2 linked regions of the Homo sapiens genome follow. The protein of the gene in region 2 interacts with the protein of the main gene of each other region in a biochemical or structural test. Each region holds a gene or a part of one and is shown on either strand. Other genes may lie near its edges.

What was found.
Region 1: of the proteins of UNG (region 2) and DCAF1, one has a biochemical effect on the other in vitro, tested with the Homo sapiens proteins (2 studies listed by BioGRID, with this or other methods).

Annotation. Positions count from the first base shown.
Region 1 is NC_000003.12:51,423,432-51,427,250, forward strand, and holds part of DCAF1 (DDB1- and CUL4-associated factor 1), read right to left. Parts: intron 2,578-3,819; exon of another isoform or gene 2,479-2,577; intron 1-2,478. UniProt on the Homo sapiens protein: Acts both as a substrate recognition component of E3 ubiquitin-protein ligase complexes and as an atypical serine/threonine-protein kinase, playing key roles in various processes such as cell cycle, telomerase regulation and histone modification.
Region 2 is NC_000012.12:109,100,548-109,104,366, reverse strand, and holds part of UNG (uracil-DNA glycosylase), read right to left. Parts: intron 2,466-3,819; coding exon 2,368-2,465; intron 1,529-2,367; coding exon 1,440-1,528; intron 935-1,439; coding exon 756-934; intron 1-755. UniProt on the Homo sapiens protein: Uracil-DNA glycosylase that hydrolyzes the N-glycosidic bond between uracil and deoxyribose in single- and double-stranded DNA (ssDNA and dsDNA) to release a free uracil residue and form an abasic (apurinic/apyrimidinic; AP) site.

The sequences.
Region 1 (3,819 bases), on a different chromosome or scaffold from region 2:
GCGGAAGTTGCAGTGAGCTGAGATTGAGCCACCGCACTCCAGCTCGGGCCACAGAGAGAGACTCTGTCTCCACAAAAAAAAAAAAAGAAAAGAAAAAAGACTCAGGCCGGGTGCAGTGGCTCACGCCGGTAATCACAACAATTTGGGAGGCTGAGGCAGGCGGATGACCTGAGGTCAGGAATTCAAGACCAGCCTGGCCAACATGTTGAAACCCCATCTCTATTAAAAAATACAAAAACCAGCCAGGCATGGTGGTGGGCATCTGTAATCCCAGCTACTCAGGAGGCTGAGGCAGGAAGAACTGCTTGAATCTGGGAGGCAGAGGCTACAGTGAGCCAAGATCACACCACTGCACTCGAGCTTGGTCAACACAGTGAGACTCCGTTTCAAAAAAAAAAAAAAAAAGAAAGAAAGAAATAATCAGAAGAATTTATGTATTAAGATGTTCATTAGCCACATTAAAATAGCAAAAGAATGAGAAAACCCACATAGACAAGAGCACCATATGTGTTAGAGTATAGTACACTCATAAACTACAGCCATTGACAATCATTTTCAAAGAACCCTAAAGAATGAGGGAAAGGGTTCAAAATACAACATTAATGATATAAAAATAAAAAATGTAAGATATAAAATTAAAAATCTGACAATACCAAGTACTGGCAAGAAAGTAGAGAAATGTTGGATGTCTTTTGTAGTTAAAAAAGAAAAAACCGGCTGGGTGTGGTGGGAGACCAGGGCAGGTGGATCACGAGGTCAGGAGTTCAAGACCAGCCTGGCCAATATGGTGAAACCCTGTCTCTACTAAAAATACAAAAATTAGCTGGGCATGGTAGTGGGCGCCTGTAGTCCCAGTTACTCAGGAGGCTGAAGCAGGAGAATCGCTTGAACCCAGGAGGCGGAGGTTGCCATAAGCCGAGATTGCACCACTACTGCACTCCAGCCTGGGTGACAGAGCAAGACTCTGCCTCAAAAAAAAAAAAGAAAAAAAAAAGTAGAGAAATGAAAGCTCCTATATATTGCTGGTGGGGGATGACAATGGTATGAACATTTTTAGAAGCAATTTGGCAATATCCAATAAAGGTAAGAACACAGACACCCTACAAACCAGATGCTCTACATCATATCCTCAAGAGAGCCTCCAAAAGGAGGTTCATGATACCATTTATTTAATAGCCAAAAAAACCAAACAAAAACACTAAATTAGCCATCAATGGCAGAATAAACTGCAGTATAGAAATACAGCATTTTAAATAAATATCAACATATATAAATCTCAAGAATATAAGGGTAAAAAAAGCAAGCTGTGAAAGATGAACTTAGGAAAATATTTATAATTTAAAAACATGCAAAGCAGTATGACGTTATTATTTATGAACACACAGATATATATAGTATAAAAACATGAGTGGGGAGAATATGGTTCAAATTCAGAAGATGGGTGACTCTGGGGAGGCAGAAAAAGAACTGAGCCAAAAGCAAATACAACAACATGCCAATCCTGGTTAATGATGGAGCAGTTGTTAAACTATTCTCTGTGCCTTTCTATGTTTTGAAAATATTCATAAAAAAGATGAATTTGATTAAAAGTATAATATTAATTATGTGTATTTGCAAATATTACGTAGTGAATGCTAAGAGTAATTTTCTTTTCTCTTTAAAAGATTCTGCATATTCTAAAGCAGAAACATTTATTAATTTTATTTCTAAAAATAAATTTTTAAAATCAAGGACATATTTTTTCAATAATCCAAATACAGGCCGGACCGTGTTTCATGCCTATAATCCCAGCACATTGAGAGGCTGAGGCAGGCAGATCACTCAAGGCCAGGAGTTCGAGACCAGCCTGGCCAACATGGCAAAACCCCGTCTCTACTAAAAAATGCAAAAAGTAGCTGGGCTTGGTGGTGCGTGTCTGTAATCCCAGCTACTTCAGAGACTGAGGCACAAGAATCACTTGAACCTGGGAGGTGGAGGTTGGAGTGAGCCAAGATCCTGCCACTGCACTCCAGCCTGGGCAACAGAGCAAGACTCTGTCTCCAAAACCAACAAAAAAATAAATAAACACAGATGTACCAGTTTAAAAAATGTATTTATACCCTTTCTAGTTATCTTGTAAGCTGTCATCTTTTTTTTTTTTTTTTTTTTGGAGACAGAGTCTTGCTCTGTTGCCCCGGCTAAAGTGCAGTGGCACCATCTTGGCTCACTGCATTCTCTACCTCCTGGGCTCAAGCAATCCTCCCACCTCAGCGTCCCTAGTAGCTGGGACTACAGACATGCGGCAACACACCAGGCTAATTTTTTTTATTTTTGGTAGAGATGGGGTTTCACCATATTGCCCAGGCTGGTCTCGAACTCCTGATCTCAAGCAATCTGCCCGTCTCAGCCTCCCTAAGTGCTGGGATTACAGGTATGAACCACCACGCCTGGCCTATCATCACTTTTTAAACAATTCTCCAAATAAATATAATAACCTACTTTTCCAATATTCTAAAACAGCACTTCTCAAAGTATAGTCTGGAGACCTCTAGAAGTCTGAGACCCTTTCAGAAGGTCCTGTGAAGTCAAAGCTATTTTCGTAATAATAAGATGTCACTTTCCTTTTGCACTCTCATTCTCTCATTGCATAGTAAGAGAGTCTTCCAGAGATGATGTGATGTCACAAAAACTGAATACAGAAGCAGATATGAGATATTAGGCCAGACATTTTTTCAAACTTGCTAAAATTATCTGGTTTTATTTTGGAAATTTTTCATGAATAACGCAAACATGCAATGGGTTCACTTTTTTTTTTTTGAGATGAAGACTTGCTCTGTCGCCTAGGCTGGAGTACAGTGGCGTGATCTCAGCTCCCTGCAACCTCTGCCTCCTGGGTTCAATTGATTCTCCTGCCTCAGCCTCCCAGGTAGCTGGGACTACAGGTGCGTAACACCACCCCCGGCTAATTTTTCTATTTTTAGTAGAGATGGGGTTTCACCACATTGCCCAGGCTGGTCTCAAACTTCGGACCTCAAGTGATCTGCCCACCTCGTCCTTCCAAAGTGCTGAAATTACAAGCATGAGCCACTGTGCCTGGCCCACATTTTTAATGCATAAATATTTTTACATTTTCTGTTTTAATTTCTAATACTGATAGATATAACACAAAAACAAAAGCCTTTTAGAGTTCTCAGTAATTATTAATATGGTAAAGGTATCTTGAAACCAAAAAGTTTAATAACACCTGCTCCAAGAGTACCTTACAATATTTAAATGCTGGGATTTAACAAACTTACTATATTCCCCTAAATAAGCCCCTCTCTTATCTTTATGGCAGTGAGTGAATAGGAAAAGAAGGTCAAGCACTCTGTTTATAAACTTTTTTACTATCTTCTCTTAAGACCCCATCTTTTTCAAAACAGTTTTATTTCTTTTTATATCATCTTCAAATAGAACCTACCCAGTTTCCTGATTACATCAGCCACCCTTTTCTGGGCCTTGTCCTGCTCTGCCTTAAACTAATTTGTGAAAATCCTAACAGTATGTCGAATTCCAAGAGTAAAAGGACAATTTTATATGAACGTAATATAAACATTATATATGGTTGTCAAGTAGTAGCAAGACACTTTAAGTACTAAAGAATCCTGGACTCCAGGCTCAAGACAAGACTTTAACCCCAGCTCTGCAGCTGTGGCCGTGTAAATCATGTACCTTCTCCGACAGTACAGAGGCTAATCCTTGCCTATTATGCAAATTTTACAATCACCAAGACCATATATATGAACAAGTGTGCTGTAAATTAAAAATCATATTTTCATGCCTAATCTAATTTCTCAGATT
Region 2 (3,819 bases):
TTAATAATGATCACCGATAGGCCGGGTGTGGTGGCTCATGCCTGTAATCCTAGCACTTTGGAGGTTGAGGAGGACAGATCGCTTGAGGTCAGGAGTTCAAAACCAGCCTGGCCAACATGGTGAAACCCTGTCTCTACTAAAAAATAAAAAAAAATCAGCCGGGTGTGGTGGCGGGCGCCTGTAGTCCCAGCTACTCGGGAGGCTGAGGCAGAATCACTTAAACCCAGCAGGCGGAGGTTGCAGTGAGCCAAAATCATACCACTGCACTACAGCCTGGGCAACAGAGCGAGACTCCATCAAAAAACAAAAAACCCAGAAACAAAACAATAATGATCACTGATAGTATTTTCATGGGCAAGTTAAATTTGTGATTGAGTGGAATTCTTTGTGTTTTCTATATGTTCCCAAATTTCTTGGAAGCCAGAAACATGCCTCATCCATCACTTGTTAAGTGAATGGTACCCAGGGACTTGTATCTTGTAGACACCAAGTTCATGCCTACAGCACCAACTGCATTCAGTCACAAGTTGGCCAGTTGCTTTGCTTTCCTCATACACAACTCATCACCCCTATAATTTGTCCAAATTCTTCTCAGTTTTCAATGGGAAACCCTTATAACAGGCCTAAGGGAAAATAAAAGTTATTTTATAACATGGATTTTCCAGGACCAAACACAGCAGGGACTCCTAGAATTCTTTACATTGTTTTTATAGTGTTAAAAAAAAAAGAAAAAAAAGAAAGAAAACAAAACATACCCTATCAATGGCACTGCCCTTCTTCTGAGCATAAGAGCCCCAGAGCAAGAAAACAAGGCCATTCGAGTTCTGATTTAGCCAGGACACAACTGCATCAGTGAACTGCTCCCAGCCTCGCTCCTTATGAGAGTTGGCTTGATGGGCACGAACCGTGAGGACAGCGTTGAGAAGGAGAACACCTATACACATGAGAGAAACAGGTTAAATGTAGGCTCAGGCAAATCAGCCCAATACCCAGCAACAGGAGCTAAATCCATGATGAAACCAATGCTTGATGGGATCCAGTGTAGCAAGCTGTGCTTCCCTGCTGCAGCCGGCATAATGGCAGCAGCCACTACCATCAACAATGGAGTCGGGGCTGGGCGTGGTGGCTTATGCCTGTAATCCCAGCACTTTGGGAAGCCGAGTCGGGCGGATCACCTGAGGTCAGGAGTTCGAGACCAGCCTGGCCAACATGGTGAAACCCTGTCTCTACTAAAAATACATTAAAAAATTAGCCAGCTATGGTGGCTCATGCCTGTGGTCCCAGCTACTCAGGAGGCTGAGGCATGAGAATCGCCTGAACCTGGGAGGCAGAGGTTGCAGTAAGCTGAGATTGCACCACTGCACTCTAGCCTGGGCAACAGAGTGAGACTCGGTCTCAAAAAAAAAAAAAAAAAAAAAATCTAGCAGTCGCTGGCTTACCTTGCTTGGCCCACCCAGATAAATCTCCATGGCCAGGATGAACAAAATCCTCTATGTCTGTAGACAACTCTTTATAAATGTTCTCCAAACTGAAAGCAAGCCACAAGAAAAACAAAAAACAGAATCTTAAGCATAATTTTGAAAGCTCAGTAACGTCTAAGACATATGTGAAAAGGTTAGAAGTTACAGCCAGCCCTTGGAAGGGACACTGGCACATATGGCGCCGATTAATGAGATCAACACTGCCAGTCCTCCTTCTAACAGGTGACTCTGCCAAAGACCTTTACTTTAGTCTGTACTTGGATTTAACAGCACTCTGGAAAACCTAAGTAAATCAACCCAGCAGTTACAACCCAGACCCCCACTGTTGCTCAGGGACAGTTTTCTGTCCTTAGCATATTTATGTATATCATACACCAAATCCTCCAAAAGCAGTGGTTCTTTTTTTTTTTTTTCCAGTCTTGCTGTGTCACCCAGGCTAGAGTGCAGTAGCAGGATCTCGGCTCACTGCCACCTCCGCCTCCCGGGATCCAGCGATTCTCCTGCCTCAGCCTCCCAAAGTGCTGGGATTACAGGCGTGAGTCACCGCGCCCGGCCCAAAGCAGTGGTTCTTAACCAGGGGTGATTTTACGCCCCCAAGGGACTTTTGGCAATGTCTGCACATTTTTCATTATCACGAGCTGGGGGTTGCTCCTGGTTTCCAGTGGTAGAGGCCAGGGATGTGGCACAAGATCCTGCAATAGCACAGGACTCCTCTCCTCCTCCACAACAAAGAATGACTCAGCCCCAAATGTCAATGGTGCTGAGGCCGAGAAATCCTCCTCCAAGGCTAGTGAACAGTGCCCCAGATAGTCCCACTTGTAATAAGCTAAGTACACATCTGAAAGGAATCATGTCTGGACTGCAGTCACCTGTAAAGCAACTGTACCTGGGCGGAGGCGGAACAGGCCTTTGAACACTAAAGCAGAGCCCGTGAGCTTGATTAGGTCCATGATATGGATCCTGTCCCAGGATGACAACCTTCACCTGTGAACCACCAGGGGTCAGGAATTAAACAATACTGTAATGTAAGCAGCACAGACCCTGCCTCAAACAAACATAAACAAAACAAATAAAACACTTCTATGGCATAGATTGCTAATAGCAGAGTTGCTGGTCAAAGGCTAAGCGTATTTTAAACTTGTAAAGATATGTACCTAGCTGCTTTTTTAATTTTTTGAGACACGGTTTTGCTGTGTTGCTCAGGCTGATGTGCAGTGGTGCCATCACAGCTCATGGCAGCCTCGCCCTCCTGGGCTCAAGTGGTCCTCCCACCTGAGCCTCCAGAGTAGCTGGGCCCACAGGAGTGCACCACTATGCCCACCTAATTTTTTTTTTACTTTTTGTAGACACACGGCCTCCCTTATGTTGCTGAGGCTGGTCTCAAATTCCTGAGATCAAGGGATCCTCCCTCCTCGGCCTCCCAAAATGCTGGGATTACAGGCATGAGCCACTGTGCCTAGCCCCCAGTTACTTTTCGATGAATTAAAGCAATTTAGGGCCTGGCATGGTGGCTCACGCCTGTAATCCCAGCACTTTGGGAGGCCGAGGTAGGCAGATCACGAGGTCAAGATATCGAAACCATCTGGCCAACATGGTGAAACCCCATCTCTACTAAAAATACAAAAATTAGCTGGGTGTGGTGGCGCACACCTGTAGTCCCAGCTACTCGGGAGGCTGAGGCAGGAGAATCGCTTGAACCCAGGGGGTGGAGGTTGCAGTAAGCCGAGATTGCACCACTGCACTCCATCTCAAAAAAAAAAAAAAAAAAAAAAAAAAAAAGCAATTCAGATTTCCCACCAGCAGCATATGAGGGTGTCTGCTCCCCTATATCCTCTAACAGGTGGAGCCAGAAGAGAATGAGGTCAGATCAAAAGGGCCATGGGAGTAGGTGGCAAGAGACAATGAAATGAAATGAAGTTCCTGTCACGGGAGGTGTTGAAACATAGGCCGCCTCGTCCTTCCCATCCAGGGCCCACCCACCTAGTCTTCATTCTCAAGCTTCTGCCATTGCGTTCTTAGAATCTTCCTCCACAGCTGACATACTCTATCTTTCAGAATCCAGCTCCAGATGTTCCATGACCAGGAGGCTTTTGGGGACCTCTTGTCCCTCCCCTTGGTGTTCACACCATGCCAACATATTCTCTTGTGAAACAACTCTCCCAATGCTGGTCTGTCAAGAAGCCCTGCTGGCCCATCTGATCCTCATAGGTTTGAAACTGGTTTTTGAGCATTCCCTCAAAATATTCCTTTTAATATTCCCTGTTTATACTGATTACTGGTATTCAGAATAGGGCATTCAAACAAGAAGCAAATTAGTATTGATCTTAATAGGATTTAA